2 linked regions of the Homo sapiens genome follow. The protein of the gene in region 2 interacts with the protein of the main gene of each other region in a pairwise test. Each region holds a gene or a part of one and is shown on either strand. Other genes may lie near its edges.

What was found.
Region 1: the proteins of CHODL (region 2) and ZDHHC21 interact in binary tests that used the Homo sapiens proteins (3 or more experiments, as listed by UniProt).

What each region holds. Positions count from the first base shown.
Region 1 is NC_000009.12:14,653,185-14,665,856, forward strand, and holds part of ZDHHC21 (palmitoyltransferase ZDHHC21), read right to left. Parts: intron 9,143-12,672; coding exon 9,031-9,142; intron 5,704-9,030; coding exon 5,565-5,703; intron 1-5,564. UniProt on the Homo sapiens protein: Palmitoyltransferase that catalyzes the addition of palmitate onto various protein substrates. Palmitoylates sex steroid hormone receptors, including ESR1, PGR and AR, thereby regulating their targeting to the plasma membrane.
Region 2 is NC_000021.9:18,238,159-18,251,480, reverse strand, and holds the start of CHODL (chondrolectin isoform a precursor), read right to left. Parts: upstream 6,649-13,322; 5' UTR 6,258-6,648; coding exon 6,179-6,257; intron 5,607-6,178; exon of another isoform or gene 5,534-5,606; coding exon of another isoform or gene 5,512-5,533; intron 1-5,511. UniProt on the Homo sapiens protein: May play a role in the development of the nervous system such as in neurite outgrowth and elongation. May be involved in motor axon growth and guidance.

The sequences.
Region 1 (12,672 bases), on a different chromosome or scaffold from region 2:
TTATTCACACATAGTTTTATACACATAATCAACAGCTGGATACAGATTTTTGCTTGTTTTAGAGAAAAATGAAAGAAACACAGGAAAAGACTTGCAAAAAACACTGATGAGGCAGTATTTTTTGAAGAATATTCCACCATAAAACATTATTTTTTTAAATGTCAATGGTAATAATGGTGACTTTGGTTCTGAAATTATTGGTAATTTTTTTCTACCTTTATGAAAAACACAGTAAATGTAATTTACAAAAGAACTGCTGAAGTAAGAACATTATTTTATTATTTAGCTTTAGAGAAGTTTGTTATACTGCTGGAATTTTACTAAAGATTTGCCCTTAAAACCAATTATTCCAGTTACAGCCTCAAGGGTTTTGTTGTTTTTTTTGCCCAGCAATGACCTCCTTCATCTCCCCATTTGGTTAATCTCTATCTCACCTATGAAGTCCACCATGAGTCTCATTCCCTACTCTACAGCACTTCTCAGACCTTATGGCCACAGAAGTTTTGCACTGCACAACTCCACAGGATACTGTTTACATAGACTATGATGTGAGTGTTGCCTCCTGGAGTTATGCAATTAGGCAGCAATGATTAAAATCACCTGGGAAGAAATTTTTTAAACAAAATGCTATTGCCATTGACACCTATGAGGAAACAGTTCGTATGAGACCAACACTCACACCAAAAACACTATTAAAAGCCAGATAAAATCCAATTAATTAATAAATACACAGCTGTTTAAAGATACTGGCAAGTAGCCAAACTCCCCAGAACTTAAGAGGCCAAAATCTCAGAGAAAGTAGACAGGCGTTAAGGTGAGCCATATATTCTGCACTGCTTTTTATCTGAAAGTACCTGTCAATTCACATTCAGTACTGAATGAAAAGTCAAGTAGAACCGGAGACTCAGAACATCCTGCAAAATCTCCAAGGCCAGGAAAACAGTAACTGTAGGGCACAATCCACAATAAACACCTCAGTTTTTCAGCTGAGACCCCGAAGGACTAGACTATTGGAATAAAGGCAAATTGAAACTAGTCTTTCACAAAGACAAATCCAGCAATCAAGATTCCTTACAAAATACCAATAAATGCAATAAATAGCATCTTTCCAAAAACTGCTATATTAAGACCAATGTTCTGTTATTTAGCATTAGAAATTCTTGTTATACAAACCCCTGATTGGATAAAAATGAGGCTTCTCTTATATCCTATCAAAAAAAAAGAGTAAATCAAATCTGAGGAAAGAACACAATCACACTTTCTACAATTTGTCATGCAAAATGCTCAGTATTCTAACTTAGACATGTCAGAAGACAGGGCCAAATATCTGGAAATTGAGAAGAAAAAAAGAGTCAACAGAAACGGACCCACAAGGGGATCTCAAAGTTAAAGTTATCAAACACAGACATTAAAAACTGTGATTAACACGTTTAAAAAAATAGATGACAAAATAGATGATTTCACCACAGAAATTATCAATGAAAGAAAGTATCAAATGGAAATTCTAAAAGTGAAAAATATAATAACTGAATTAAGAACTCATTAGAAGGATTTAAGGGTAGGTTAGACATGGCAGAAGAGGTGATTAGTAAACCAGAGGATAAATTAATAGGAAATATCCAGAATGAAGCACAGAGGGGGAATAAAAAAGGAAAGTTAAGAAATAAATTCAGAACATATGCAGCACAATGAGACTTCACGTACATGTAAGTAGAATCCCAGAACTGCAGGAGAAAAAATTGAGCAGAGGTAATATTTGAAGTGACAAAGGCCAAGAAATTTCCACAACTTAAGAATGACATCAGGCCACAGATTCAAAGTTACATAAACTCTCCAACAGAAAAAAGTGCAAAGAAAACAATACCAAAGCACATCATAGAATCACAGAATAATTGCTAAAATACAAAGACCAAAAGAAATCATAAAAACAGCTAAAGAAAAACATATTTCATTGGAGTAACAGTAAGACCAACAACTGACTTTACAACAGAAATGATGGAAACCATAAGACAATGGAATAACATCTTTTAAAAACTGAACGAAAGTAACCACCAATCTACAATTCTGTGCCAAACAATAAATCCTTCAAAAATGAAGGAGAAATAAAAGCATCTTCAGGGAACCAACACTGAGAGAATTTGTTCCAAGAGACTTGCACTAAAAGCAGAAAAAATAAGCCTAGAGGAGGCTCAGGTATAAAGAGTACTAGAAAAAGCACCAATATGTAGATAACTCAAAACAAATACTGACTATAGGTAACATATAACTTGTATAACAATATAACACATAATGTATATGTAACAACAATAATGTCTTGTTATCATGTGATTTTTTTCTACATCTACCTTCTACCCCAAAATATGAAAAATGATGATGACAGAGGGTGTTCCAAGACCACTGCTTTCATTAGGTGCACAATGGTAAAGTACTAACTTATATTATACTTCAAAAAAATCAGAATAATGTTTTCACTTTTGGGGAAACTATAAAAAGAGTAAAAGAAAAAGCCATTAGAAATAGAAAATTGGAATTTTTTTTAAATTAGAAATTCCAAAACAGGAAAGAAAAGGAGAAAAATGGGAACACAGAACAGATGAAGTCAAATAATAAATAGGAAAATGACAAAATACCAGTTATACTAAGTAAATATTTACTAAATGTTTCATATTAAAAGATAATTTTTTAATGAAATATCTGCTGTCTGTAAGGCACATTATGAGACACAGTAATCAAGATAGGTTGAAAGTATTAAAGACAGAAAAAGATATACCATGAAAACACTAACTAAAAGACAACTGATATAGTTAAACTAATAACAGAAAAAAAATTTGAAGGCAAGAATCATTACTAAGAATAAAGAGGCATATTTTATAATGATACAAGAATCAATCCACCAAAAAGGTATAACGAAATTTGGATGTGTCTATAATGTAGCTTCAAACTCTCAACTTCTAAATCAATGAAATGACTGGAATTCATTTCAATGTATATTGACTAACTACTGAACATTCATTTGCTTCAGATCATTGGAATATTTAGAGCTACATAGATTATAAAATACTTTCTTCAAGTTTAGTTATAATTCTGGTCCTAGAATTTAGCTTTACTCTATTAAACTTAAGTAGGTTAGAACAGTGCTAATAAACATTCAATTTTATGTATTTAAATTTGTCTGTCTTTTCTTACAATGGGAAATACTGTGGTAAAGCTCTTCTCTCCATATACCTAACTTGATAATATGTATGAATTACTTCATTCATTGAGATAACATATAAACAAAACTAAAACATTGAGATAATATATCATAAACAAAACTAAAAATTACTCGATTCCTCAATAGGAAGCAAAATGGTCCTGGAAATTTCATAACATAATCTGAGTTTTCATTTCATTACTGCTAATATGGTGGTAATTATAAAAGTACACCGCTTGATACAACAAGGAAACCATAAGACTTAGGCTAAGAGAACGATTTCTGCTCAGCACTACTAGACACAAGTAACTGTCAGATCCCTAGAATTATTTATAATGTACTGCTTCATTCCTAAAGTAGCTTTCTAACAACCAACATAATGATTTGATTTTCATTTGCTAAAATGCTACTAACATATTATTATGATTTTTATTTAAAAAAATCACCTGCTTGCATCTACAATTGATGGCTCTAAGGAAAATCTGGTTTGACTTTTTAAAACCCACTTTTTATACTCACTTTTTATATACTTTCTTCTTCCTGATATTTTTAATCTCTTAATAAACATTTACTATGCTGCTGATCTTTTTCCAACATTCATTATGCATGTAAATATACACATATATGTCGTATATTCAAATATAACCCATAATCCATTTCTCCATTTTAAAAAAAGGTGACTGTCTAATTGCCATTAATTTCTCTCCAGTTTCTACCTTTCATTTGGAGAAGAAAATTAGTTTGTAATTTCAAACGTCTTAATACTTCATTTGATTATTGGAATTTCCTTAGTTGGTCATCAATCTTCCAGTAATAAATGGTTACTGTAAAACGGTCTCTAAAATTTTCATGAAAATTAATAGGCCAAAGAAAAATTGTTTCCTCCCTCTGAGAGTTTTCACTAAAATCAAATGTAACATAAATTGAATGTCTATTATATACCAGCTAAGTTTACATATATTATTTCATTTAATCTCATTATTATTCACATTTTCAGTGGAAGAAAATTACCATTCAGAGAGGTTAAACAATGTGTCAAAACTTATGCATGTAATAAGAAAAAACAGGCTTTAATCCTAGGTATGTCTGTTTACAAAGACAAGATCTTTCCACTACCAGAGGCTGGCAAAGTTACTGTAAAAGAGCCAGACAGTTAATATTTTAGGCTTTACAGACCATACAGTCTCTGCCACAACTATTCAGTTCTGCTCTTATAAAACAAAAGCAGCCATAGACAATATATAAACAAAAGAAAGTAGCTGTTTTCCAGTAAAACTTTTTTTTAACAAAAACAGGCAGAGGGCTGAATTTAAACCAAGGCCCATAGTTTGCCAATACTGCACTATACTACAATGCATTCGTTACCTCTTAGCCTGTCTTTGTTTTTCATTAACACCACTAAACTCTACTTCTCTGTCGCTTAAAAAAATTATTACCTTAATCTTACTGAGGAATTTTATTTTAATGCTTTTCTTATTAGGCTCAATTATTTGAAACAGATTACTCCAGGGAATATGTACATTCTTTTACATGATCTAACTTTAATGCCAATTATATCAGAAATTTATCTATAAATAAGATGAAACATTTCTAAAACTATAGTCCTAGCATGCATTATATTCTCAGTGGATAACTTTTTAAAGCATCCTGCAAATTCATGATATCATTACTGATGAAAGGCAGGGAGAAAAAAAGTTCTCTTTCTCAAGAACGTAACTATTTGAGAACCTTTAAAAATTACATTCTGCATTTTTATTCCTGAAAAGAAACAAGAACATTTTGTCTTTGTTTTTCATTATTGTAGATATTTTTAAACCAAGACACACGTATTGAAAGATTCAACGTGTTGCTTTCTAAGCTCAACACTAATAAATAACCATAAATGAATTTCATTAAAAGGAAATGTCAGACTAGGGCCCACTTTCTCAATCCCAATATAGTTCAAAATTCACCAATTTGGGAGTTTGCTTTTGTTGTTTTGTTTCCAATCTTTTGTTGTTTTGTTTCCAATCTTTTGTACTTAAAGGAACCACATGTTAATAATTGTATGCTACAACTGCTCTAATGTTAGTGGATATAAACATTTCTTTTTTTTTTTTTTTTTTTTTTTTTTGAGACGGAGTCTCGCTGTCGCCCAGGTTGGAGTGCAGTGGCGCAATCTCGGCTCACTGCAGGCTCCGCCCCCTGGGGTTCACGCCATTCTCCTGCCTCAGCCTCCCGAGTAGCTGGGACTACAGGCGCCCGCCACCTCGCCCGGCTAATTTTTTGTATTTTTAGTAGAGACGGGGTTTCACCGTGTTAGCCAGGATGGTCTCGATCTCCTGACCTCGTGATCCGCCCGCCTCGGCCTCCCAATATAAACATTTCTTACCAAATTACGCTTTTTTAGTGGAAGAAAATAGTAATAGTGGCAGAAAGAAAACATCAGTGCGTAGCAAGTAAGAAGTTCAGTGTAGAAACACAACTGCAGAAAGAGCCAATGATTATCTTCACCAACACAATTGTTAATCCTAAAGAAAAAAAATGAAAAAGAAACAATATTTTAAATTTCAAGAAGTTCACCTCAGGATCAATAAGACTAAATTAAAAACAAATAATATCACATATGCTTAACTTCATGGAGATATGCTATGGCCACTTGAAGGTAAAAACAAACTATACAGAGAAAACTATAAATATACCATCTTATATTTGTAAAGCACTTCACAAAGGAAGTCCACATATGTGATCCCCCTTCAACTCATAACAACTCAGCGAGACAGGAAGAGCAGACGGTAGTCTCCTGTGTCACTGATATGGAAACAGGGAACAAAGGAGCTAAGCCTCTGGCCAGAGGATGTAGAGTTAGAAGACATAGGGGCCAAGAGAGCAAGAACCCTGCTTCCCTGTATTTTGCTCTTCCTTTAGGGCATTCTAGCTGTGAAAAGCAATCTGAATGCCCTGAAGTAAACCAGCTGAAACATACCACTCTGACATAACTGCTAAGCATTCACTTTTCATTTTAAAAATCTACCCCTGGTTGCTGAAAATAAAAATGTATTCAAAACTATTTATAAATACACACAGCTATACTTCCACCAATACAACAGTGAACCCTAACTAGGAAAGAGGATTAATGTTACAATAAAAAATTTTCAAGGCTAATTTAAGCTGAATATTTTATTGTTCCAAATTTATTGTATCCAAATTGTCAAAGTATCCTAAAATTCCAGCAAAAAACCCTAGTTCAAGACTACAAATGACTTTGCACAAATGTTTTCATTTCAAAATAGTATTATACTGTCACTGAAAAAGAAACGATGTAACAGGTTTCGGTCCTAACTTAAATCGCTCTTTTTAACTTTGTCATTAAACCATTTTTTAAAGTCAAATACAGACCTGAACTGAAAAACCTTAGAGAGGCATTTCTTAAGATTTAAGAGTGCATGTTTTGTAAACAAGAAAATCTACTGTGCTTTGTTATTTGCAAGCAGGATTATAAGAGAAGTGTGCTTATGTATTAATATACACTCAAAAGTGCTCTTCAACAGCTGCCGATTGAAAGATGACTTATCATTGTTCCATCTTTCCTGTCCCCAGGAAGTTTGAGAAACAATGTCTATGATCACAGCATTCTTCTTAACCAGAACAGCTTTAAGAAGCACTAAGGTATTCAATCTATATGAGTTCTTTTTGTAACATCTGCACTACTTAGAAAGAATGATCAGGCCAGGCGCGGTGACTCAAGCCTGTAATCCCAGAACTTTGGGAGGCCGAGGGGAGCAGATCACCTGAGGTTGGGAGTTTGAGACCAGCCTGGCCAACATGGTGACAACCCGTCTCTGCTAAAAATACAAAAATTAGCCAAGCATGGTGGCATGCACTTGTAATCCCAGCTACTCGGGAGGCTGAGGCAGGAGAATCACTTGAGGCCAGGAGGCAGAGGTTGCAGTGAGGCAGAGGTTGAGATCATGCCACTGCACTCCAGCCTGGGCAACAGAGTAAGACTCCATCTCAAAAAAAAAAAAAAAAAAAAAAGAATGATCAGAGCCACAAATACAGAAAACCTTGAGGCAACGTGAGAATTGACCTCCAAACCTAAAAATGTCTTAGGCAGTTAAGTAGTGCAATTTCTGAAAACATCAAAAATTTTCCTTGCTTCCAATTTACACTGTACATTTCCCCTGCTCTCTGAACATTTCAGCAGTGCTCTATCAGGAAATTCAATGATAAAAATTCCTGAATCTCTTTAGGTCCCTTGTCTACTCTCCTTTCTGATCCTCCAATCCTTTGTACTTCCCCCTCACTGCTACCAACTTCTGAAAAGTTGACTAAAACTATGGAAGCAAGAGGCCCAGAAAGAGAAATCACCCCAACGTTAGAATTAAGGTTAAATAGCACCTTATTTGGTCACCAATAAGTGAGTCTTTCCTAGTTCTTTCTTACTACTGCATTCGTTTGAAAAAAAAAGCATCAATATCCACTTCCATCATGAACATTTGTATTTTAGTGAATAAGAAACTCTACAATAAGAAGCGCTTAAAAACTGAGCTTTTCTGTATGATCAGCAATTATCTGAATACATGTTTCACGTAGCTTTCTAAAAATCTATTACTATTGTGAGAGCAAACAGATCACTGAGCTTAAGAAAATTACTTGGGAATTAATCTTTATTCCCAAGTAATTCCCAAATAATTATTTACGTTTAAATTCAAGGCACAGTTTTGAATATCAACTATATGTCATACACTACTCTATCTTGTTGACAGATTTAGAAATTTTTAAAATTTTTATGTAGTAACAAAATGCTTTTATCGAAAATGCTCTTACTTTTTCCTATTTCAGGAAATTATCTTCTTTTTAAACAGTCTATGCAAAAAAACAAATTTCCACCAGAAGTTTGCTGAATAACTGTGCTATCAAAATAAGTTATCAAAAATAAAGAAAACTCTAAATAGACTAACATTAGAAAAAGCTAAACTCCACTTGCATCAATTTTAAATAAAAGCAATTATAAATTAAGAGGCTCATTATGTAAATTTGCATATATGCATGTATGTGTATACAAACATAAATACTACATATATGTATACAGATACATTTGTCAAATTCTACACTATACCAGTTTAAATATTTATACAGAGAGCCAATGCTAAGAAAACAGAATTAAATACAATATCTTGTTCACAGATTTTTGTGACAGCTTTAAAATGAGATACAATACAGAATTCACGCAGCATTTGTTTTCGAAGATTATATTTCTCAACTGAACATTTTCTTTAAATATTACAAGAGAGCCCCCTATTGACCAAAACTGTTAGCAGTTCTGCAGAATCAGCTAATTATCACTCACATACTTCCAACAAGTACATAATGGTAGTAGCTATATCCAATACATAATGCTTAAAAAGCTTTAAGGGGTAAGGAAGAGGTTATCAGGGTGTCTGAAATGTTATTAATTAAACAAATGAAAAGGGGATATAAACATTCGGATGCATATGGTTTATTACAATTAGAAATAGCTACCATTTAAGTACATCCTACTTGTCAGATATTGTAGTAAATGTTTTATATACATTGCCTCATTTAATACAACCACCTTAATCCTTTTGTATATCAGGCTGCAGTTAATTCTTACTTTTTTGGCTCAAATCTCTCCCTGTTAGAAAAGATAGGATTTCTGTGGAAAAATGACTTTGGGAGTTGACAGAACCATATAATCTAAATAAAGATATCCTTATTAAGATATTGTAAAACTATATAACTTTAACATAACTGTTGTTTAAAGCTGCCAAGTTGTAAGATTTACATTTTATTACCCACCCCTCTTTTCTTTGCTAGAAGTGAATTATTCTTACCATGGACAGTGATGATCCATTCTCCTCACACAGTGGCCGCAGCGGCTACAGTGATGGGAACGCTTTGGTCTCATCAAATTACACTTGTTACATAATTCCCAGAACTCCCTTTCTAAAGAAAAGAAATTAAAATCCATTTAATGAAGGCAAGTGGGTAATGCTGAAATTTACCAACAGTTGTTTAGAAGATTTTATAGGAAGCCTTCAACATAAAACTCTAAGAGATTTTTCTTCTAAGCCTTTGGTATAAATGTGTTTGCCATAAATGCTGCTGTTCTATTCTACATATGTCTTATTTTGTGTGTTTCTAATTTAAAAGACTAAAAAAATAAGACACTATTGTTATAGTCAAAGTAAGAGACAGAAAACAATGTATTTGGATTCTGGGTATACTGTGAGAATATAAGTAAAATCCAATGACAAAACCCTAGAGCCCAACCAAATTATTATACTAAAACAATTTTATTTAAACAAATTGATTTCTAGAAATTTCATTTTCTAAAGGCTCTAAAGAAGAAATAATGCTGACCCTGGTTTCAATTGATTAGTAAACTGAAATCAACCCTATAAACTCATCCGAAAAACAGATGGCATTTCCCTCCACATACACTTTCCCTAAATCATTTAATTTTAAAAAACATCAGTAGATTCATTTAAGAGTGTGTATGGGACAGGTTAGAGAAGGATGTCATATGGGTTTGGGAGGTATCAGAATAGTTTCAGTAGTGAAAAATGTTATAAGACAACTACTATTTTTAATGAAAATAAAGGAGTTCTTCATAAAACACTGAACTACCACCAACTAGCAATTTCCTCTAATCTGGAGTGAAACAGCACACGATTAAGCTCTGTGCCAAAAACACAAAGTTTGCATAAGAGAAAAGGCTTTTGTTTTCATTAAAAACTGTCCTAATTAGGTCCGCGAAAACTATGGAAGAGTCATCTTCCTAGAAAAGACAATTGCCTTATTATACAAAAATGTATCTTTTAAATATATTGGAATGGAATTTTTCTTTTACAAAATTCTTTTAATTTTCATCATCTGTGTTTATACTATCCCATAACCTCATTAAAAGTATGGACATAGTAAGATTAGCCTAACTCCTATATTCAGATTGAATTTTAGTACATGAAGAGTAGGACCCTAGCACATACTAGGTAGTCACTAAATGCTTGCTGACATATGAAAAGTCTAAAATCAAAAAATGAAAGATTCTAAATAAAAGTGAAAGATAATAGTAGACAATATTCAATTTTCTTTTTTTTTTCAGATTACAGATTTTTTTTTTTTTTTACCAATATTGATATTTTTATTTCTTTTTTTTCTCTTTTTTTTCTTCTTTTTTAAGATTCTCTGTTTGAATTCCATTACTTTAGTTGAATGGTCAGGAGCAACATCAACATGCTGGACTTTTATATAGTAAAGCGTTGGGAAAATACTCCCACTACAGACATCTCTGAAGAAACAAAGTATGAATAAAACCTACATCAAATTAATTGTTCCAATAATATGAAAGTTGAGAAATTATCTCTTATACTTGAAATCTTATTTTAAAAGAAAATACTTTTTCATCTCTTACAGTTATTTTAATGAAAATAAATCATGCAAGAGCAACAGTACTAAAGCTTAATTTACATAGTTAAACTAGTACTATTTACCTCTAAGTGAAATAAAAACTCATTTAATCTATAGCATATTACAATGTCACAAGCATATCATATTCCACTCCCCTACTTAGCTCAATGCTCCCAAACATCCCAGTGTTAAAACTTTGAATTCGGGGGGAGGAGCCAAGATGGCCGAATAGGAACAGCTCCGGTCTACAGCTCCCAGCGTGAGCGACGCAGAAGACGGGTGATTTCTGCATTTCCATCTGAGGTACCGGGTTCATCTCACTAGGGAGTGCCAGACAGTGGGCGCAGGCCAGCGGGTGCGCGCACCGTGCGCGAGCCGAAGCAGGGCGAGGCATTGCCTCACTCGGGAAGCGCAAGGGGTCAGGGAGTTCCCTTTCCGAGTCAAAGAAAGGGGTGACGGACGCACCTGGAAAATCGGGTCACTCCCACCCTAATACTGCGCTTTTCAGACCGGCTTAAGAAACGGCGCACCACGAGACTATATCCCACACCTGGCTCGGAGGGTCCTATGCCCACGGAGTCTCGCTGATTGCTAGCACAGCAGTCTGAGATCAAACTGCAAGGCGGCAGCCAGGCTGGGGGAGGGGCGCCCGCCATTGCCCAGGCTTGCTTAGGTAGACAAAGCAGCCGGGAAGCTCGAACTGGCTGGAGCCCACCACAGCTCAAGGAGGCCTGCCTGCCTCTGTAGGCTCCACCTCTGGGGGCAGGGCACAGACAAACAAAAAGACAGCAGTAACCTCCACAGACTTAAATGTCCCTGATAGCTTTGAAGAGAGCAGTGGTTCTCCCTGCACGCAGCTGGAGATCTGAGAACTGGCAGACTGCCTCCTCAAGTGGGTCCCTGACCCCCAAGCAGCCTAACTGGGAGGCACCCCCCAGCAGGGGCACACTGACATCTCACACAGCAGGGTATTCCAACAGACCTGCAGCTGAGGGTCCTGTCTGTTAGAAGGAAAACTAACAAACAGAAAGGACATCCACACCGAAAACCCATCTGTACATCACCATCATCAAAGACCAAAAGTAGATAAAATCACAAAGATGGGGAAAAAACAGAACAGAAAAACTGGAAACTCTAAAATGCAGAGCGTCTCTCCTCCTCCAAAGGAACGCAGTTCCTCACCAGCAACAGAACAAAGCTGGATGGAGAATGACTTTGACGAGCTGAGAGAAGAAGGCTTCAGACGATCAAATTACTCTGAGCTACGGAAGGACATTCAAACCAAAGGCAAAGAAGTTGAAAACTTTGAAAAAAATTTAGAAGAATGTATAACTAGAATAACCAATACAGAGAAATGCTTAAAGGAGCTGATGGAGCTGAAAACCAAGGCTCGAGAACTACGTGAAGAATGCAGAAGCCTCAGGAGCCGATGCGATCAACTGGAAGAAAGGGTATCAGCAATGGAAGATGAAATGAATGAAATGAAGCGAGAAGGGAAGTTTAGAGAAAAAAGAATAAAAAGAAATGAGCAAAGCCTCCAAGAAATATGGGATTATGTGAAAAGACCAAATCTACGTCTGATTGGTGTACCTGAAAGTGATGGGGAGAATGGAACCAAGTTGGAAAACACTCTGCAGGATATTATCCAGGAGAACTTCCCCAATCTAGCAAGGCAGGCCAACGTTCAGATTCAGGAAATACAGAGAACGCCACAAAGATACTCCCCAAGAAGAAAAACTCCAAGACACATAATTGTCAGATTCACCAAAGTTGAAATGAAGGAAAAAATGTTAAGGGCAGCCAGAGAGAAAGGTCGGGTTACCCTCAAAGGGAAGCCCATCAGACTAACAGCGGATCTCTCGGCAGAAACCCTACAAGCCAGAAGAGAGTGGGGGCCAATATTCAACATTCTTAAAGAAAAGAATTTTCAACCCAGAATTTCATATCCAGCCAAACTAAGCTTCATAAGTGAAGGAGAAATAAAATCCTTTACAGACAAGCAAATGCTGACCAATTTTGTCACCACCAGGCCTGCCCTAAAAGAGCTCCTGAAGGAAGCGCTAAAC
Region 2 (13,322 bases):
ATAAATAATTAAAATAAATAAAATAAATATGTATTTTTATATATTAAAATAAATAAATAAAATAAATAAAATACATATTTTATATATTAAAACAAATAAAATACATTTATTTTATATAAAAGAAATATTCATCCTTATTAGTTTCACACACAGCTACATAAATAAACAGGCCCTTTTATTTAGAGAAAGTTATTATTATTAACACTCCTATCACTGTCACAACAAAGATTTCATCACTCTTTCCATGAATAAGTAGATGATTTTTGTCTTTTTCCTTAGCCATTAAAATTTCTATAGAGCTAACTATTGGCAGAGGTTTAAATGCTCTTGGCAATGATATAAAGTGGGGCCAAACTCATGAAGTCAGGGTAGTTTGCTTTTTCTTTCTGAGCAGAAAGGATCTATAATTTGGTTTTCTTTTTGCTTATATTTGTTTATTTTCTGATAGTTGAGTGCTCAGTTAGTTATGAAAATAATAAATATTTTCTAATATCTCACGCTATAATTATATATTATTAATATTAGATGAATATTGAATTTATATCACTTTTTCAATAAAAATATAAAAGACATATTACAAATTCCTGCTGTTCAATTATGATCTACCATTAGTTGCAAAAAAAAGTAAAAAAGAGCATCCACATGGTAAATATTCCCCAAACCAGACTGAATTAACTTAGAATGTTTTATTAGAATCACACAAGATATTTTTTTCTTTTTCATAATTTCTTCTTACCCCCCTCACAATCACACTGATAAATATGTTGATACTACCATACACAGTGCAGCAAGGACTGTGATACCAGTGCCAACACTTTTGAACTAAAAAGAAAATGACTGGTGTTCAAGTGTTCTGCGTTCAGCATTCAATGTTACACCAACTTCTTAAAATTTTTTCTTATAAAGAGTTTTATTATAATAAACTTTTATTTTTACAACAGAGATTTTATAATGTACTTAATTGCATAGTGCACTATAGCTGGAGTCTATTTTCTTACATTAATAAACAAATTTATTTATAATTTTATTTATAATTTTAAATTAAGTTTATAAATGTAGGTTGTGGTCATTTTCTGGATGGTGGCAGCAGCAGCAAGCCCTACTTTTCCAGTTGGAAAATGCGTAAGCTTTCTGAGAAGAGCATGAGACTATTTTTTTAAAAAATCAGAATATTTACAATGGAGATTAGAATAATAAGTAGTAAACCAAGTATCATTGTGACTTAAGAGTTCATGTAGCCAATCAAAATGAATTAGCTTTGAAACCAAACTCTACACTTGAACTTTGGGTACTTGAGATTATTTAATCACCCCTGGCCTCAGTCTTCTTACTTAAATAATGAGACCAGTTATGAGTTTTATAGAAGTAATGATTCTAATAATAAAAGCCTCAAATTTAGCAATAATTTAGAATGTAGCACCTCATTTCTACCACAATCCATGCTTTGGGATAAATTGGGAAAAGACGACCTCTCCTGGTGAGAGATGGCAGAAAGGTCCCTCTTATAGACTGTTCAACTAGAAAAAGTTGATTTTGCCTCTAGGTAGCTTGAGCTACAGGCACTGGGCTTGCCAAGCTGAGCTCCTTCTCCTGTCTCTTTGGCTTGTACCTCGACACAGTGCACAATCTGCATAACTGTGTTTGAACCTTTTTAATATTCCTAGCAATCCTATGACATAGGTGCTCTTATCTGTTTTCAAAATGAGGCAAAGAGGGCAGTTCACACAGCTCACAAGTGCTGAAGCTGGGTTGTGAAACCAGGCCATCTGGCTCTACACTCCATGCTTTTACCAGGTTTCTATGCTGTCTCCATATGTCTCAAACCTAATATAAAGGTGAAATATTTCATGAACAAAAGGGATTGATGAACACAAACACTGTGCATGTTATCTATGTCAGAATCATAAGCATTAATCTGTTATTGATTATTGGGTGGCTAATATAAGCAAGGCTTGTGCATTGAGAGCTTGTTTCTAAACAGAATTAGATTTTCTGTTACAAATATTTAAATAAGAATTAATGTTGCCTCTGTCTCAGATTTTCAAACCATATATGCCTTTAATAAATTTTTATCTAGTCTTTTTATTTTCCAAATAAAACAAACTAGATCCAAATTGAATGCATTCCACATTACAAAGAGTATAACTTTAGCCAAGTTGTCATCCTGTGTTATATCATGAGGAATATGTTAAAATAGTAAAAGAAACACTCTCATCCTAGAGTCGCACACATCCATCTACTTGTATATGAATTCCTGACACAGAAAGTTGTTGTAAATAGTAAAAATTGTTTGTGAGTGCATCTTCTGAATTTTAACCTTGGACTCCTTTATATATATATATATTATTATATATGTATTTTATTATATATATATTATTATATATATATATTTTATTATATATATATTATATATAGTAAATTATATATAATATATATAATATTATATATATTAATATTATGTATAATATATATTATATATAAATACATATATGTATAATATATATTTACATATATGTATATATTACATATATATGTATACATAATATATATGTATACATATATATGTATTATACATATATATGTATTATATTATAGGTACAATACATATATATACACATATACAATGTATATATACATACATATACAATATACATACATATATAATATACATACATATATACACACATATACATATATACACACATATATTATATATAACATATATACATATATATTATACATATATATTATATACATATATATGTATATATTATATACATATATATGTATATAATATATACATATATGTATTATACATATATATGTATATAATATATACATATATGTATTATATATATTATATATGTATTATACATATATTTTATATATATATATAAAATACATTACCTTTTATAAAGGTAATGTAACAGATACTGCCATCTTTGGGAAAGAGTTATAAAACAAAACCATAAAATGATGACAAACAGCAGTTGAAGAATAATGGCTATGATAAATGGTTAGTTCATTAAATGACTGGTAATAAGATTAATTTGTTCCTTTCATGCCCGAGAGATACTTAAAGTAATTGCATCTCTGAAAACTGCACTGTCATCATTTTATGCTTTTGATGATGTCATAGATTAGTTCCATAGGCTGAGAAAGGCTCAGCAGTTTTTCTTGTATCTCCCTTGGTATATATTATATCATATTGTATTAATGTATGTGCTACTGTTCACCACCCATGAATTTGCAATATTCTATGGTATCCACAGGATAAGAAGAGAGGCCTCTAAATCACCCAGTCTCCTAAATAAAACATGTGCCAGTTTTAATAAAGTTAAACTGATATATATTAAAGTGTCCTGGAGAAATCTGGAAGCACCATGAAATATTCCTAATGTCATTTTGCAGCAAAAATAGGTTGGGGATCACTGCTATGCACACTAGAAAGAAAAAAGGAAAAAAAAAAAAGAAACACATTACTTCAAAACACTTCAAATGTTTAAAAGTATCACTTGCTCTTCAAACATATCCTCCCAACTTAGAGACCTGAATTTGGAATCCTTCATATTTATCCTTATGCCTACAAGTAAAATCCTTTTACCTTTGTCCTAAAGAAGACATCACTACTCACCAGTCACTTCACAAAATTAAATGATTGCAGCTCCCATAGATATTCTCTACACATCTGTGTGTAGTAAGAAATCAGTACAGGTCTAAGCTCCTAAAGGTAGTTTCCAAATTAGCATCATAAATTCAATAAATAGGCTTTGATTACTATCATCATATCACATCTTGTTTTGCATATTCGTACATCAAAATAATCATGACCACTGACCTAGAAAAAATACTTTCTTATTACTACTAGATGCCACTAAATCTCATGGGTCAGATTACGATGACGAAGTTGTTTGAAATGTCATTTCTTGCTAAAATATATCCACTTTATTTTTAGGTAATGCTCTAAACTTTAGAAAAGGTGATGTATTTAAAAGTATTGGAAAGTACCTTATTGAATATTTTAAGGTATTAAATATAATTTATGTGGAGAATTATTTTGTGAGTGTCTATTTTTCTGCGGTCAGTGATTATTTGAGTATCCTACATAGAAATTATAAATTGTTGTACTGAAATTTAACAAATAGAAATATATTCCATACGTTGCAAGTATGTTCCTAATAACAGCCCCAAAGAGGCTCTTACTCTTCAATAAAGATTTGGTGAATGGTCCCAAGTGGCACGAAAAATTGATGCACCAATTCAAAACTTACATTGACCAGGTAGACAATAGATCCATTAGAAACTATTGCTACAAAAATGTCAGGCTTCAGGCTGCTCTGTTCTCTGGCCATTGTGGTCAAAATATATCTTTTTAAGAAATTAGTCTTCAAATAATAAAAGTCACAAATCAATTTATAGATGGTTAAATTTCAATGTGAATTTTATGACCAAAGACAATTGAATTATTCATAAGGAAAACATAACTAATTATTTTAATATCAAATAAACATCATCATTTATGCTAAATCAAATAGATCATGTTCAGTTAATTAGAAATTTTCCAGATGTCACCTACAAGATGCCTATAAATGCTTAATAAGAAAACCTAACAAAAGATTTGGAAAAAATTATGTACTCATAGAACGCAAAATACACCTCTTCAACAATTTTTTAAGCTCTGTTTTTACTTTAGATATTATTTTTCCTCCCTTTAAAATGTTGAGGCCTAGGAACAAGAGCATATCTAAAGGATATTATTTAGGTCAATGAGTAAAAAACATCTTATGTTCAAAGCATGGTCTCTGCTTTTCATTCAGTTGCATGAATAATTCTGATAAATACAAAGACAGATAAGTAATTCACAAAATCAGATGAGTCTATATAATGAATTTTTTCTTTGCAGCTAACTTAGGGAGGAAAAGGATCTAATGTCACAGATTCTGAAAATTCTGAAAAAAGTGTAGAGTGATCGGTAACTACACATGTAAGAACTATATTCTGAAGCTGTAGAACATCACAAATTGCTAAGGGGAAGATCAGTGACAATTAAGCTTAATATGCCAATGTCTAAAGGTCTGGCTTCACAGCTGAATTACTTGCTGTCATCTGTCATCTATTTCTACATCTAGTGACACCTGTTGTATAGGTGTACAAAAGTGAAAAGGGCTATTTGTGCTTTTTATGTTTTAAAAAAACTTTTCACCCTCAAAACACATATATCCAACAAATACTTATTGCAATGTTTCAATGAGCATAGTAAGAGATTTCAATAAAGTGTAGCTATGATCAGCCTTTATGTAAGGCCCTAAGCACATTCACCCTAGGTTGTCGAGAATCTGTATCCTTTTGAAGAGACCGTCCCAAAAAGTAAGGGAGAGTAATTGCAATATAAATCGCTCAACGACAGGACAGTGAGAGTCAAAAAAAGAAAAATCAAAGACAACCTGGGAAGCTTGCCAATTTTGATCGATTTCCCATGCACTGACTCGACCGACTTAATTGTGCACCTACTGTGTGCCGAACCTGCAGTCATTACCAAGTATACCTCGGCCCAACTCCAGCTGACTTCATTTTCTGGGAAGTCCCCAACTTGGAACGCAGTGTGCAAAGGAAAGGCATCTACACGCAATGACCACACTTCAGTTCCTTGCCAGTAGTCCTGCTGAGAACAAAGACCGAATGCCCAGGCATCCGGAGGCGACCCACAGCGAACTGATCTGGTCACAGAAAGCATCCGAGTGAACACGGTGCTGGGACCAAAGTCCAGTCAGAGCGACAGAGGGTGGCATTTCTGCGGTGGCTCTTCTGTCTCTGGGTTCCCTCTGCCTCCGCCCTACCCCACCCCTTTGGCAGGTGCTGAGCCCGGCCGTGTGGTCAACTCTCTCACAAAGAAAGTGGAAATCACTCCTGAAAAAGGCTATGCCGCTCGTAATGAAGCAGAGGCTCGCTCCGCAGCTACGTAAGCAAGCGCTTCACAAAAATTTAAACTTTTCTGCGTGTGTGTTAGAGAAGAGAGGGAGGAGAACAGCACAATCAATTTCTCCCCGCCTCCTCCCGGGTCCTTACACCATGCAGGTTTCCAACGCCCCGGAGAGCCTCCGCCCGAGAACAGGCTGCCCGCCGCGCCCCGTGGTCCCCTCTCCCCGCTCGTTCTTCGGGGAGACGGCCCCTGACTCACCGCTGACCACGCGGCGGCAGAAGGCTCCGTGGCCGCAGAGCAGCGCGGCGCCCAGCAGCAGCGAGACCACGCGGCTCATCGCGGCGCGGTGGCAGCAGCAGGTGTTGCGTGGAGCGAGGGCGGCCTCTGCCCAGGGCGCAGCCCGCGACTCTGACTCTGCAGCCTCCCTGCCTCCCTGCCGGGCCCTACTCCCGCCGCCCGAGCCCAGCTGCCCGACCCCCTGCGCGCATCGCCTTCGGCCGGGACCTGCCGCCTGCCGCGCCTGTGCCGCGCGTGGATGTGCGGGGCTGGAGTTCAAGACTTCGAGGGTGCGCGTTTGGGGGACTGAAGTTAGGGGGTCCCGTGTATGTCCTAGAGGCGAAGCAGAAGCCCCGGCTTGGACCACACCGTTGCGCTTTGCTTCTCTTCCCCGGCCTCTGACAAGTGAGAGGCTGAGCCGGTGCGCCCTGGTCCTGGATCACAGCAGCAGCAGCCGCTCTGCGCTCAGGCACCGTCTTATATACCCACGTCCCGAGGTTCCGGCCCCCTCCCTAGTAATAATTTTTAACTACTTCGTCTCTCCAGCCATGTGGAGCATCCCAGCACCTCCCCTAAACACGGGAGCCCCTTTGAAAACAGTCCAGTCAGCAGCCCGCCTCCTCTGGTCCCCTCCTCCCTGTCCCCTCTTTCCATTCGCTAGCGGACTGGATACTCTTTGTGTAAAATGTGACAGCTTTGCTATTAAACTCTGGCAAAAAGTTGGATCCGTTTAGTTTTCTCAAAGATAAATGTCTACGGGGTTGCCAAGTTGTGTGGCCTTTCTCTTTCTGTGCTAAATTGCTTAATCATATGTATTGCTAGATGCAGGGCACTAGCCACTATTTAAGATGGATTGGTGAAGTGAGAGCCAAAACCTGCTCAGTGAATTATATAATGTGGCAGGTTTGTCCCCACCTAGGTTCTGCAAATAGATTATCTCCAAGCAGGTTGTTTGACGAAAACTGCCACAAGAGCAAATTGAAAGGAATATTTGAAGCATGGTTTTCGAAACTGATTTCACTCTCAGTGTTTGCAACTCCAGAGAAAACCGTCAACACAAAGTAGGCATTCTGAATTCTTGGGAATTTCCTGGAGGTAAAATGAAATGTATGTATTTCTTTGCAATCATCTATCAGTGATCTACGATATACATTAGAAGTAAAGCTCATTGGAAAACCTGCATTTTTCATAACCTGACCTGCTCTCTTTATTAAAACAGTCTACCCAAGGACTGTGATACCTAGTTTCCAGGAATACTGGAGAGAAGTTCTTAAGAATTTAATGTATATCAAGTCCATAGTATGAACTCTGAAAATGTTCTCATAATGAGCTTCAGTAGAATTGGTATTTTCTCATTATGTTGCTTTAAATGCATGAGAATTTGTTAAATAACATTACTTGTCTTATAGGAAGTACACTTTCCTCTAACTTCCTCCTGTCTTTGGTTTCATAAGCCACGGGTACACTGTAAGCATCTGTTGGACTGTTTTATTGGAAAAAGGAAGTAAATACTGATACAATAAGGACAAATCTTCCAGAATCAGAAATTTTAGCACTTGGAAAGACCTTAAAGATTATTAAATGCACCCTACTCGTGACAGTAGAATTCTAGCTCCGTCTGGAGTCCCAGCTATTCCAGAGGCTGAGGTAGGAGTTTGACGCTGCAGTGAGCTACAATCCAGCCACTGCATTCCAGTTTTGGGGACATGCAAAATCCTGTCTCAAAAAAAAAAAAAATAGAATTCTAAAATAACTACAATAATGTCTATTCTATCACTTCCTTTTTCTTATATTCCCTTTAAAAACACTAATTCATTGCAGAATCATGGGCAGTTAATAAATTTGCACCTTGTAGAGGCTATGGATTCTGTGACTTTCACACTAGCTAATTATTCACGAGAAACAGACACTGCTGGGATTCTGAATGAAAAATGGAAAACTGATACGCCTCCAGGCAACAGAGCTATAGCTCAGCCCCGGAAACCATGTCAAAGAGCATCACTGGGCATAGCCATGGTAGGAGAGCTGTCCTCCAGGGGCTCAGAGTCCAGTGTAGAGAAAGAAATAAAATAATAACTCTGTGTATAAATGCTGTAATGGAAGGATGAATCAAGTGTCATGGCTAGCATAGATAAGAAATTCATTTGGAGGCATATTTGCAGGAATTCTTTAGCAGCAGTCAAGGTTGATGGTGGTGATACCCATGGCTTCTCCAAATACCTGTAGAACTAGGGTTCTGAAGGGGATCTCCTTTCCCCTTTCATGCCACCCTACTCTCAGTTACTCATGCCCAGAGCTACTGTAAACAGGTCCTTCTTTGGGAAAGAATACCAGTAAATTACAACATAAGCACTAGATAGATATTCCTATATATCAGTAGGCCCAAATGTCTCTCATGCCTACAAAGCTAGCAAGAATGAAGGCATTTTTTGTCAGGAAGGATCTTCATGGTATTAGTAATTCAGGAAGCCCAAACTATAATAATAACTGTATCCTCAATATGTTTGCACAGACTTCCTAACATACAGTTTCTTATCTTTAGGCTAGAATTATATCAGTTTAAGTTGGCCACATTCATTAACTAAGGCTGTTCAGCAGTTATTCTGGATGTTGTTTGACTTATCAGGAAAATAAATTCTTACAGGTTCTTTTTAGATATGATGTTTTTTAAGGTGACTGGCTGACAAGAACAGCTTTTTTTGTTTGTGTCTCCGTCACTTCAAAACATCTGGATGGGTCATCACTGAGTTCAGAGATCACAGTTTGAGTTGTCTTAAATATAAAATCTGAGTGTTACTAGGCATGCTCTTTGGAGAGCCCTGATGGAAGCTTCTCTTGGCTTCCTTTTTTTTCCCATACAATATGGAAAAAAGTAGGGGCTATGAATTAAAATTTTTCAACAAAATTGTATTTTGGAAAAATGTTACAAGGTTATTGGGAGTTGGGGGAAAGCAACAAATATTCAATAATTTTATTAACAAAGGATTTTAATTTTTCCCTCTTGTGGATATGCATAAGGTGTCATAGAAGACACATGGTTTTCTGATGACACATTTTAGTTCCAAATTAACTAAACAAAATTAGAAGTTTAAGAATTGTTTGCAAATTGATCCAGAAATTAAGGGCTCTTTCTAGGGCAAGCGAGAAGAGACTTTAGGGTTATGTGAGGAATTGTGTATGTCTGGAGCTGGGCTCCAGGTCAGCTCATACCAAACAAGACCATATGACTGGCAGTCAGGAGAGAGGTCCCCCACAAGTTAAGGGTCTTTGTCCATTAAAAAAAAAAAAGACTCAAATGAGAACTTCAAACTGATTAGGCTAAGGAGCTCAGCATCTATTCAACACCTAAAATGCATCACTTTCTTCAAGCCCCCAAATAGAAGGATGATCTCAGTAAAAGTGGCCACAAAGGAATTTCAGGAATAAGTCGATCGCTGAATCTCCAGAGGCTCTGAAACATCAATAGAGAAACACTATTTGGAATCCAACGTTTTCAAAAGTGATATCAGGACTCTTAAGGGTATACTATGGAATCTATATAATATCCCAAATATATCACGAACTCCTTCACTCTCACCATTCACTTTCAAATGTCTGCAATTCCCAGTGAGCATCTGCTTCATGCGCCCATCAATACGTCTCAAGGAAGGACAGCCTAAATTCCAGCCACTGATCTGCACTCAGTGGCTCTTCACATGGGCAACTCCATACAGTGGCTTCAGCCTAAGTCACAGCAGGCTTCATTCATTTGCGCTCCAGATCGAACAGTGACAAATAGGATCTTCAAAGGAGATTTGTTACAATGTTTAAAATTATTACAACTTTACATTAATACATTTGAGATGTTTTCAGAATCCAACATTAACTAACCAATATTATTTATTCTATTATACTTTATCTAATAACAGTTAATGATTCTCCTGAGCACTATCAATAGTATTGCCAGGATATAGAAAAATAAATATTTGAAAGTTTAAAAGTAAAATCATTACTATATAACCACTTCAGCAATAGGCAAAAAGTTTTTTTTTTTTTATCTGAGTAATGCTTGGTTATCACTTCCAGTAAGACAGCATTGAATCCAAGGTTTTCCCTCCCAATATTTTAGAGATGACACCTTGGCATCTGTGTGGGTGTGTAACTGGCTTAAATGTAAGGATAAGCAGTTGGCCAAATTCACCTGAGATTTACTTGCTCTTTTCAAAACATGTCTATGCTGTAGAATACATGACCTACCTCATTCAGGAGCCAGTTCCACCTTCCTCATAATCCCAGAAGTCAGTTTTTGCAGGGCTGTCTAGGGGAATTTCATTGTTCATAACGATATCAGAAATATAATGAAGAATTATACACATTAATACACATGATTTTCTATAACTTGAAGTTAAAATTTCATAACTGTTCAGTCTGTTGCATGCTCTGATCATTCAGGTGATCAGTTAAAAATATTTATAGAACTCCATTACTAGTAATATATCCTATCAGATCTAAAGAATCATATAAATATATGTGCATGTTTAACTATCAACTCAATTAAAATTTCTTTTTAATGCTTCTTTATTAATTTAAAGTAATGAAATCTGTTTCTATTGCTGGTAATCTGGTATAAACCAATACTTTTTATTCTAATCACAGCTTAATTACTAAATCTTGCCTTAATATATGTTAATACAACCAAACAAAATTGAGATAATCAAACAAAAAATGTGTAAGCTAAAGTCATCTTTGCCTCAAGGGTCTGATCTGAGTTATTAGATACATAATTGACTAACTCCTTATTGGGGGTGATATTGTACTACGGTAAGATTATTTGGCTAGCAGAAACATTAATCTAAATTTTTCATTAATCTGATCTTGGTCAACTTTCCTCTTCTGTTTGGTTTTCACTTTATAAATATAAAAAGAATGAATTGGAGAAGTTCTGTGTTTCCTGACTGAATGAGATTCTACTGCAGAAATACTGTTATTTCATAAACTTTCCTAATGTTCATCTTTATTCTACCCAGCCAGAATGTCATATGTTATTTGCATATATGCACTAATTTTCCAAATATATATAGATGCTATGCTTCTAATGAAATGTAAATTTAATTGTAAAATGTCACTTAATTTATAAATCTTTTCCCATATATTCTGATCAATATTTACCAAAATAACAATTGCTATTATGCGGGGTCTGAAAAACAATACGTATGTTAAAAATAGGGCTTCATACTCAAAGAAGTTGGAAATCGCTATGCTAGATATTTCTAGAGTCCTTTTCAGCTTTACAATTTATTTCACTAAAGAAAAAAAAGCTTAACATCTTCCATCTCTTTTTATTTTCTTCCCTTCCTCCCTCCCTCTTTCTTTCTCTTCTATTTTTTCCTATAAAAATGACAATGGTTTGATTTATAATAAATGGCTATATCCTCATTTAATTTCAAAATTGTTCAGAAAATGGGAGTTCTGAAAATTTTCTATGGTCCTTTGACTAATAAATCAACATATCACAGATGCCACAAAAAATGAAAAATCCAAATAAAGCAAAATAAAATTGAGGGCCAAGTTGAGTAAAAGATAATCCAACTAAGAGGCCATAAAACTGTAAATGAATTTTTGATAAAGCAAGATATTTTCTATAAAAGTGTTTTATTTTACTAAAAGGGAAAGGGTGTAAAGAAAAGGAATAGCTAAAGACCTAAAAAAATGTAAAATATTCCTTTGTGGCATTCATAAATATTAAATGTTTCTCCAAATATATCAAATGACTAGGAAACAATAGTGCCAAAGCCAGCCATAATAGCAATAAACTGTATTATGTGAGCTGACATATAAAGTTAGAGGGAATTTAACGGAAAAAAACCAAAGGTATTAAGAAAAAAATCAATTTAAATATCCTTCTGGAGGTACATCTGTCACTCTGCTGCTCTTTCATACATCGTTTCTAAGCGTAAGTAGCTCACATGCCAAATACATGTGTATAATGCAGGACAGCAATATAGAAATTTTGGAAATAATAAGGAATACTCTGTCAGATAAGCCATAGATATCAGCACCCGTAAACCTTTCTTTATCCTCTAGGTTACCTTTTAAAAAGGAAAAGTTATTATTTATCTGCAATAAGGTATACATATTCTACATTCCAAAGAAACTCCTATAAAATAAACATGAACAGAAAGGGAAAAACAACAAAAGTAAGTGTATTTCTATTGCTTGATCCTTTACAGCAGAAAAATTTAACGGAGCATGTTACAGTAAGAAATTTGTGCTATAATATTTCTCTCCAAAGAATGGACACAAAAATTCATAAGGTAGTCTTAATTTTCTAGAGTGTTAAAGAACATCAGAGAGCTACAAAATTATCATGAATGTCTTAGTCATGTACTTCCTGTCTTCTCTAATAGGTAAGAGTCATTTAATCTGGCACTAAAAAATCAGAAGTAATGTTTTTGATGTTTAAATATTTATGATGTTGAATAATACAACAATTACAAAAATATGTATATAAAGTTCTTCATACAAGACTAGGATAATCATAGTGGACTCAGGCCCGTCTGTGCTGAGACTCATTTACTTGTGACTGTAAAGACTTCTGGAAAAAATATTACTTACTGGGAATAAAATGGAGCATAAAGCTAGACCTCACAATCTTAATACTCTAATCAATTCCACCACCCATCCACAGCAACCCCTCCCTGAACTTTCACATAACCACATTGGTATGGTTTGGCTCTGTGTCCCCACCCAAATCTCATCTTGAATTGTACTCCCATAATTCCCGCATGTTGTGGGAGGGACCCACTGGGAGATAACTTGAATCATGGGAGCACTTTCCCCATATTGTCCTCAAGGTAGTGAATGAGTCTCACAAGATCTGATGGTTTTATCTGGGGTTTCCTGTTTTGCATCTTTCTCATTTTCTCTTGCCACCACCATGTAAGAAGTGCCTTTTGCCTCCCACCATGATTCTGAGGCATCCCCAGCCTTGTGAAACTGTAAGTCCAATGAAACCTCTTTCTCTTCCCAGTCTCGGGTATGTCTTTATCAGCAGCATGAAAATGGACTAATATGCGCATCAGTTTACATGGCTTATTCTAACATGTTAAGGACCACTAGAACTCTGGTGTCTCTTCCCAGACTCTAT